Linked DNA regions of Homo sapiens: region 1 is linked to region 2. The links come from fine-mapping of genetic effects on gene expression. A gene starts in region 2. The other region holds a variant in brackets. All regions are shown on one strand. Distances are between the middles of the regions. Region 1 overlaps TF (transferrin). Region 2 holds the start of SRPRB (SRP receptor subunit beta).

Region 1 (4,389 bases), 48 kb after region 2:
TACTTTTTATTTCTTCTTTATATCATTCAGGATTTTAAAAATTCTCTGTAAGCCAACATGGAATATTCTTTCTTAAAAAAAAAATGTTGTTAGAGACAAGGTCCTGCTAAGTTGCTAGCCCTGAACTCCTGGGCTCAAGCAATCCTCCTGCCTCAGCTTTCGAAGTAGCTGGGACTACAGGTGCATGCCACCATGCCAGGCTAGGATACTCTTTTGATCAACAAAGCAAATTTGTACCTGATTGGATCCTACCATGTACTCAGGATCTTATCTCAGTGATCGTGGCACACCACTGGTCTCAGGACACCCACACCATGGTCCAGCCTCCCTAAGCAGGCACTGCTCAGCCTGCCCTTTCACCATACACTCATACAAGGAGGAAACTGAGCCCTGTGGGCACCCTTCAGATCCACAAGCTCAAAGATTCTGAACCTCCGGTGGGGCTGTGCTCACATAGTCAGGGCAAGGTTCCTGGGAGCCAGGTTTTTGCATCATTCCCAGGAACACTCCCTAGCTCAGTCTTGGGGGCCAGCAGGCAGCAATGACAGGGACGCTGCCCTAGGAAGGCTGGAGTGACATACCATGATCTTGGCGATGCAGTCTTCGGTGGTCTCTGCTGATACACACTCTATTTTCCCTACACTGTTAACACTCCACTCATCACACTTGAGCCTCTCGTGGTGGCTCAGCGCACACCACTTCACAGGCTTGCATTCATCTGTTGGGGCTTCTGGGCCTATGGCATAAAAAAAGAACAAAGATCAGAAGCGGCCCTAGCTGTTGCCTGGTGTTTGTCAGCACTACTCACTGTCTTCATGCAAATGCTGGGATTTGCCAGCAATAAACAAACAGACCCCATTCAAGGAATTAATCACCTTAGAAAGCAAAGTCAATGCACAATCTCTTGGTTGACTTCTCATTTAAATTTAGTTTTTTATGTCTTCCGAGAAGCCAACTTTCCTCTCCAGCCTCTGGGCACTATATGACCTCTGGCTGTTTTTTTCCTTCTTGTTTTTCAGATAGCACTTAACTACTGGAGGTGTTCTTATTTATATGTTCATTGTTTATTGTCAGGTTTTCTGCAGGAGAACAGAAGCTCCAACACAGAAAGGGCCCTGCCTGTCTTGTTCACCAGGGCATCCTCAGGGTTAGGGCAATGCTAGCACATGGTCAGCATAATAAATGTCTGATGAATAAATGTACATCTGCTCATCTTTCAGACTGAGCTCAAGAGTCACTTCCTCAAGGAAGCTTTGCCTTAACGCCAAGTCCAGGGCCTATTTTTCTTTGTTTTGCAGTCTCATAGGGCCATGGTATTTTGTTGTCATATTTTTCCCCTTTTAAACATATCTCTTACTTTGTAATTCATCATCCAATAGCATGACTATTCATTAAACATTTATCTTCTCCCCAGTTTGAAATTTCCAGGACAACAGAATCAAATATATATTTGTCATGCCATCCTATGTCCAGCACCTAGCAGAGCATATGGCTAGATGTTCAATAAATGTCTGCTGAATAAATGAATGGTCAAGCAAAACCACAGTGACTCAGTGAAATCCAGGACTGGGATCAACCTCTCTTAGAGCACCTCTTCATTATGGTACATGTTGACTGGCTGGAGATGTGCAATATATAGCAATTTTGTTCTATTTCACTTACTCTGTGATAAGCTAATTGCCTTCACAGAGTAGGTAAGGCAGTCCTGATTGATGCAAAGGAAATACTGGAACCAACCCACGTCATTTTAAATGTGGATTTCCTGTAAAGCCCATGGTGACATCAAGGCCATCTCATAATGACTAACGCCATTCAGCATCAGTCTAACACTGGGCTCACAGACAGGTCAGAAAAAGGAGCATCAGGAGAGGCGTGCAGGTCCCTGAAAAGACTCAATCTCTGGCCCCTGTGCTCACCAGGTTTCCCAAGTGCTTGTGGTCACCTGGTTCTTCCCAGGTACTCACATGTGCCTTCCCGTAGATTCCGGATGGCAGTGACATACTCATAGCCCAGGTACATCTTGGCATCCATCCTGGGGGGGACTTTTAAAAACCCGTGGGCAGAGTCCTTAAACAGCAGGTCCTTCCCATGAGGAGAGCTGAATAGTTGGAATTCTTTTGATTTGTCTTTGCCAAAATGTTCCTGTTCATAGAAAAACAGAATAGTGGATGGCAACACAGAAGAAAGGAGGCTGAGAAATGGGACTGAAGAGAAAAGAAATCTCTGCAGGAAACAACATGAAAAAGTTCAAGATGCCAGGAGAGAGGGCAGTCGGACCTGCTCCTGCTCACCCAGCACTTCCTCTGCCTGTAGCCCTCGTGGGTCCGCGATTT[G/C]CCTGAACCTGCTTCTGTGCCTGTCTCCCGGAACGGGTTGAGACATCGGTGAGAACAAGAAACGTGGCTAATCCAGAGGCTGCCCTGTGTGGTTACCAGTCAAACTCTCAGTGGACAGATGGGACGGCTCGGCAAGAGGAAGCTGGCTGAGCCCAAATCACACAGCTCTTGGGAAGTAAAGCCGCTGTGCAGGCAGCCCCCTCACAGCCGGGCTGAGGGGCATGGGGAGAGAGACCATTTCCTTCTGGGAGGGTCATGGAAAGCCTCCTTGGGGAGGGGTTTAGCTTTGGGCCTTGAAGTTTAGGTAGAAAGGAATGCAACAGAGCAATACAGAGCCTCTTCAGGTGTCACCAGCCAGAAAGGCAAGGGCGGCAGACGGTAGCACCACAGCAGGCTCCCTGCTGCTCTGTGGGGAGTCCCAGCTTTTAGAGAACTTAGTGACATGTGGCATGGCTCCCACTGTATCCTGAACACACAGACTTCCAGAGTGACAAGATGGCCAGGAGGAAAACCCCCAAATCCAAGCAGGGAGCACTAAGCTGGAGGGGAGGATGGCAGGTGGGGATACCTGGGCCTGGTTGAGAAGCTCCCAGATCAAGTCCTCCTTGCCGCCCATACTTCGGGCCACGACGGTATGAGAAGGGACCTGGGCCAAGTGGCAGTCCTTGTATTCATCTACCGGCTTCCGGGTGTTGTCCAGGCAAAGCAGCTCATACTGGTCCCTGTCAGCCTTGTTTGCCAAGTTCTCTGGGGAGGGAAAGCCCAGGTGAGCTTAACACAGGAGAGCCATGGGCTGTGGTGCCCATCCTTGAAATTCAATTGATCATAGAAAGTATGAGCTGAGAGGTCTGGAGTGAGCACTGAAGGCCAGAGAACATGCGGGAGAATGACTCGCTCAAGAGCCCACAGCCAGGTAAAGGCTTCTGATGCCCATGTAGCAGTGATTGCTCCTCATTCCACCATGAGCCTGATCTTAGCAGCACCAACCCCCAGTCTTTGGTTATGGCAACACTACCCCAGAGGCAGAGGCACCGTGTGGAGAGATTGAATGATGGAAAGAGGCCCAGGAATCCAGATGGGGACCCCGTAGGTACCTAACTCTGCACAGGTGGAAACCCAGGCAATGATAAAGGAGAAATACAGTATGCTCATTTCCAATTACTGAGCATGAAAAAGGGAACACAGAAAAAGAACACCCACTACTTGGAGTGGCCCTGGTGGATTCTTGTCCCATTCTTACCAAATATAGTCGAGTGCTTGACAAAGGCCACATCCCCAGCACCATCCTTCAGACACCTGGGTCAAAGAAACACATCAGCAGGGCTCCTGCAGGGCAGGCCCTTCTCCTGCACCTGGAGAGTCTGATCACACTGTCCAGCACTCACACTAGGATAGAGCCTGGTGCAGCCCCGTAGCTGAAGCAACACCATGGTGTGCAGACCTCCAGCGTAGTGCTGAGATGGGGGAATGAGCTCACACGAGATAAAAAGCCCTCATAACCCAAAGAAGCAAAATGCAACTGAAGATATTTTCATGTGAAAAGAGCTTTTAAACTTCTGGAATAGAAGATAATGGTATAGTGTCTCCTGAGGGTGAAAATGTGCCTTTGGCTGGTTGTAAAACTTTAGGATATAATCAAGGTAAAAAGAGAAAGCAAGAAATCAGCTTCCCAGATAGAGACGGTGATGGGGGCAGGAGACAGGCAGTGTGCTGAGCAGGTAACACTGCTGAGATTGAGGGAAGAGGGCCAGTCCCTGGACAGTGGGCCCAGACACTAGAGGCATGATTGTCCTTTCAGGCTCTGCCCGATCCACCGAGAGGAGACACTGACCAGGCTTGAGGGCTCTGGGGAGAAAGGAAGGGTCCCCAGGAAAAGGACCTACTTGTCAGGGTCAGATGAAAGGGAACATGGGCTGGCTTGGCCTAGGAGTCCCAGGTTGTGCTTCTGACTCACTGGGAGGGGATTAGGCCACCTCGATGCCCCTGTAGGCAGGCAGGGCTCGGCTTTGGACCAGCAAAGAACTCTCACCCTGAGGACATTTGGCACTTTGGCCAC
Region 2 (4,389 bases):
TAACATTACTGTACATTAAGGTACAACAATGCAGAGGAGGGCATGATTAAATCTACTGTACAGATTGTCAAGAGAATTTGTCACAAAGAATATGTTTCTCCATAAAAATAAGCTACAAATGGTACTTACATCCTCAGATGAACTCATCCTAAAAATGTCCTTAACTGACACACCACAGTAAAGTAAGACTGTCAGACTCCAAAACTCCACAAACATCTTACCCTGTTATTGTTGACTCTGTATACAGCACAGCTGTCAGTAATGGACGTCTGAGTGTCTCTATAAAGGCCTGTTAACAACTGTAAAAAAAACAAGATGGGTGATATTCAACATTTTAATAGCACACCTAAATTGAGTTATATTATTCTAAGTCTCCCAGGTGTAAGGTTAAGTAAATGAATGCTGCTTCCGACAGGTGAAAAAGACGATATTGATTTTTTTTACCTGTAGAAAAAAATCTAATTAATTGCATATTTTACTCCTCAGTGGAATAAAAACAACATTATTCTCAAAAGACAGTTAGTGGCCAAATTTGCCAAGCTTCTGTAAAGATTTTTAACCAACAAAAATGATTTGAAGCCTGGGCAACATGGCAAAATCTCATCTCTACAAAAAATATAAAAAATCAGCCGGGCGTAGTGTTGCACGCCTGTAGTCCCAGCTACTCGGAGGCTGAGGTGGGAGAATCATCTGAGTCCCAGAGGTCAAGGCTGCAATGAGCAGAGATCTCGCCACTGCACTCCAGCCTGGGCATTGGAGTGAGACACTCCCTCAAAAAAAAAAAAAAAAAAAAAATGGAGGTATTTCTTTAATGGAAGGGAAATAATTTATACTCTCAAAAAGAAGAGTTAAAAAGCAGAAAACCTCTCCTATTCACCACATTAAAATACACTGTTAAAAATACTAAATGTATTAAAAATAAATATTAGTAAAAAGAAGCCTAACTAGCCCACTATGTCAAAGAAGGATCACCCTGTGAAAAAGTGTCTTCGATAAACTGTCCTAAGAATTTGTTAACGAAGGAATTATAAACTGTAGGACACTAGCTTCTATGCCTTCTGCTATTCTGGAATGAAACTAATTAAATAAAATCCTTGAATGTGATAAAGACTAAATATCAGCATCTGGCAAGGGCAAACAGAAAAAAAAAAGGAGAAATGACCAATATTTCTCAATTATGGGTTTCTACGAGTCTTTTTGTTCTCCCAAGTAAGTCAAGAATTAACTTCCAAATTTAACAGCATCAGCTTCTTTTACAAAATAAACCGTGAGATGACAGGAATACTGGGATCTATAAAATTTTCTATTAAGCTTAACAGGGGTGTCAATGAAATCATTTACCCTGACAAAGAGCAACGTTTTCCCGGAATCACAAAGGCCAACAAGAAGAACAGCTCTCTGACTGCTCCTTCTGCTCCGGATTAACTTCCAGAAGACTGTGGAATAGACAGAGAAAAACAACAAAAATTACGCCTTGGGAATCAGTATATGTGCATGGCTGGGGTGGGGAAATTCACAGAAGTCTGTGACGAAACACCTCATTCACCTGGAACTGACTTTTATCATAATGGTTACTATTGCTGTTGTTAGGGATCCACTGAGAGCCAGGCACTGTCAACTGTCAACTTTTCTTTGCAGTCCTTACTCTGACTGGGACTCAGGTGCTATCTCACTACCTTGGTATCCCAGCGCCCGCACGCAAACACGGGAGGCTGAAAGTTGGTGTCAAGACCCTGAGTCTTTGCAGTGAGAACAGCGGAAGGCGAGGAACAGCGCGCTCAAGCGTAACAGGGCAGATGACGAAGAGCAATCTGCGCCCCAAGGACCAGGACGTTAACTCCGGGGGTTGCCCGGCATCCCCCTTAACGCCCAGCTGCTGCCGCTGCTTCAGGAGAGAGGGTGGGGTGTAGACTGGGTGGGTCTCACCCTCCTGATGCCCTCAAGGCGCCCTCTCAGCCCCGCGTCCCCGGCCTGCAGCGGTGCAGCCAAAGCCCGGACCTCTGCCCGCCCCAAACCCGCCATGACCACCGGCCGCCTTTTACCTAGCGTCAGCAGCACCGCAAGAACCGCCACCACTACTGACAACAGCGTTGGGTCCGTCTGCTGCAGCTCCTGCCGCAAGGTGTCTAGGTAGGGCTGGAAGGTGCCCCCGGCACCGCCGCCATCTGCCACCCGGCGCGAGTCCGCGGAAGCCATGGATGAGACGCGTGGTCCCCGGTACAGCAAAAGCGACGTGGCCCTGCACTCTGCGCAGGCGCGGGGAGCAGAGCCTCACGCGAATGGTGGTTCCTAAGCCATAGTCTCTCCCTCAGCCGCGGCGATCCCCCAAGTGCTTGATGGGAGTTGTAGTTCTCTGGGACTCCGTCCTCCTACAGAACGATAGGGGCAGACAGGTTATTTGTCGAGGGACACACACATCTTTTAAGAGATGAGTCAGTCGTCGTCACCTACGTTATGACTGTTGAAAGAATGATGAAATGAATAAAATGAATGAATGGCTCCCGAAACTACCACTGAGGAGTTCCCGACCGTCGCTAAGTGACGTGAGACTTGTGAAGAACTCAAGCATCCTACAAACATTTAATCTGAATTTAATGTGACAAGGGATGTGACAGATGGATGTACGGAGCGATGTGGGAATACATAATGGGACGCGGAGTCCATCATGAGTTCAGAGAAAAGCTTCTGGACATTGGAATTGAGTCCTGAAGAATGAGTTAGCATCTGCGAGTGGTTAAAGGAAAAAAAGGTGCTGTGCAGAAGAAAATGAGTGTAAGAAACGATGTATGTGGGAACCCTAAGTAATTCAGTGCCCCTACACTGTCAATCTAGGGCTGCAAACTCAAATGTCTGCATTAAAGGAAGCAACTAGGAAAATCAACGCCCAGGAGAGCTGGGGCTGTTGAAAACTGCAGGAGGTATTTCTGCTGAAAGTAGGGCCGACCCTATTCAGCCAGGTAGGTGTTATGGGACCTGGGTGGCCGGTTCTTCCAGTTTTCAAGAGAAGCAATAAAGGCAGATTTTTATAGGAAATTTTCCACTTTTGAAATTTTCTGTAGGTAATTGAAAGCATTCAAAAACTTGTGGCCCAAATAAAACACCAAAAGTGGCCAGCCTAGAGGGTCCCAGTTCACAGTCTCTGTCATTAAACAGCTGTCATTGTTTTAAAATGTACACATTATTTAATTTAATTGTATGGCTGAGTAGAGACATGAAGATGTCAGTGTCACTGAAAGATTGAAAAAAGTTTATTACAGTTCCACATTGCCATTGAAAAAGTTGTCAGCATCAAAATGGAGTCACTTGTATTTTTTTTTTTAATCAGAAAAATGGAGCTGGTGAAAGGCCATGGAGGGAGGGTTCTCAGGCACCCATGCCTGATGACAAAAACTGTCACAAAAGACTGCAAAAACCACAGACTTGCACAAAGGCCATCGCAACCTTACACACAAAAAAATACATCTGTTAGGACGGCTACCCAGCAACTCCCTGTCCAACCTAGTACTGATGCCATCCTTGCCATTTGATCCTTGTAGCCAAGGATAATTATCTTAAAACAATTATGGAATCTGACTCATTTTTTCTTTAAAAATCTTTGTCTTCCTTTACACCCCCCTGAATATGCACATAGTTGACTATGGCATGCGTAGTCCCATTGCAATGCCTATTCCAGAATAAATATTATTTTCTTTTAGAGCGTCCCTCTCTGCTTGTTATTTAGCTTGATACCACTCAGGGCCACACAAAACCTCACCATGCACAGGGACAAGGAAAAAGAGAGGAACTGGGGGAGGACCCGGTGACTCACAGCTATTAATCCCAGCGCTTTGGGAGGCCAAGGCAGGAGGATTGCTTGAGGCCAAGAATTCAAGACCAGCCTGGGCAACATAGTGAGACTCTGTCTCTGCAAAAAACATTTTCTTTTTTCTTTTTTTTTTTTTTTTTTTTTGAGACAGAGTCTCGCTCTGTTGCCCAGGCTGGAGTGCAGTGGTGCGATCTCGGCTCACTGCAAGCTCCGCCTCCCGGGTTCACGCCATTCTCCTGCCTCAGCCTCCCGAGTAGCTGGGACTACAGGCGCCTGCCACCATGCCCGGCTAATTTTTTGTATTTTTAGTAGAGACGGGGTTTCACCATGTTAGCCAGGATGGTCTCGATCTCCTAACCTCGTGATCCACCCACCTCGGCCTAAAACATTTTCTTTAATTAAAAAATAATTAGCCAGGCATGGTGGCATATGCCTGCAGTCTCAGCTACTTGGGAGACTGAGGCAGGAGCGCTTGAGCCCAGGAATTCCAGGTTACCGTGAGCTGTGATCACATGCCACTGCACTCCAGCCTGGGCAACAGAGCAAGACCCTGCCTCCAAAAAAAGGAAAAAAAAAAAAGGAAC

What was found.
Region 1: its variant is fine-mapped to the expression of SRPRB in esophagus mucosa (GTEx, PIP above 0.99).

Annotation. Positions count from the first base shown.
Region 1 is chr3:133,755,522-133,759,910 of GRCh38, reverse strand. TF (transferrin) reads right to left here. Exons shown (of 17, transcript NM_001063.4): 6 at 3,574-3,629; 7 at 2,902-3,080; 8 at 1,965-2,142; 9 at 582-736. Among named protein-coding and RNA genes, the nearest start is that of TF, 11 kb to the right of the region's middle. The variant G/C (reference allele first, on the strand shown) is at 2,334.
Region 2 is chr3:133,803,656-133,808,044 of GRCh38, reverse strand. SRPRB (SRP receptor subunit beta) reads right to left here and starts at 2,230. Exons shown (of 7, transcript NM_001379313.1): 1 at 2,043-2,230; 2 at 1,342-1,436; 3 at 222-299. The coding sequence starts at 2,196. LOC105374116 (a long non-coding RNA gene) reads left to right here and starts at 2,562. Exons shown (of 3, transcript XR_924513.3): 1 at 2,562-2,957. RefSeq lists enhancers at 1,669-1,778, 1,809-1,858, 1,969-2,178, 2,319-2,378, 2,469-2,578.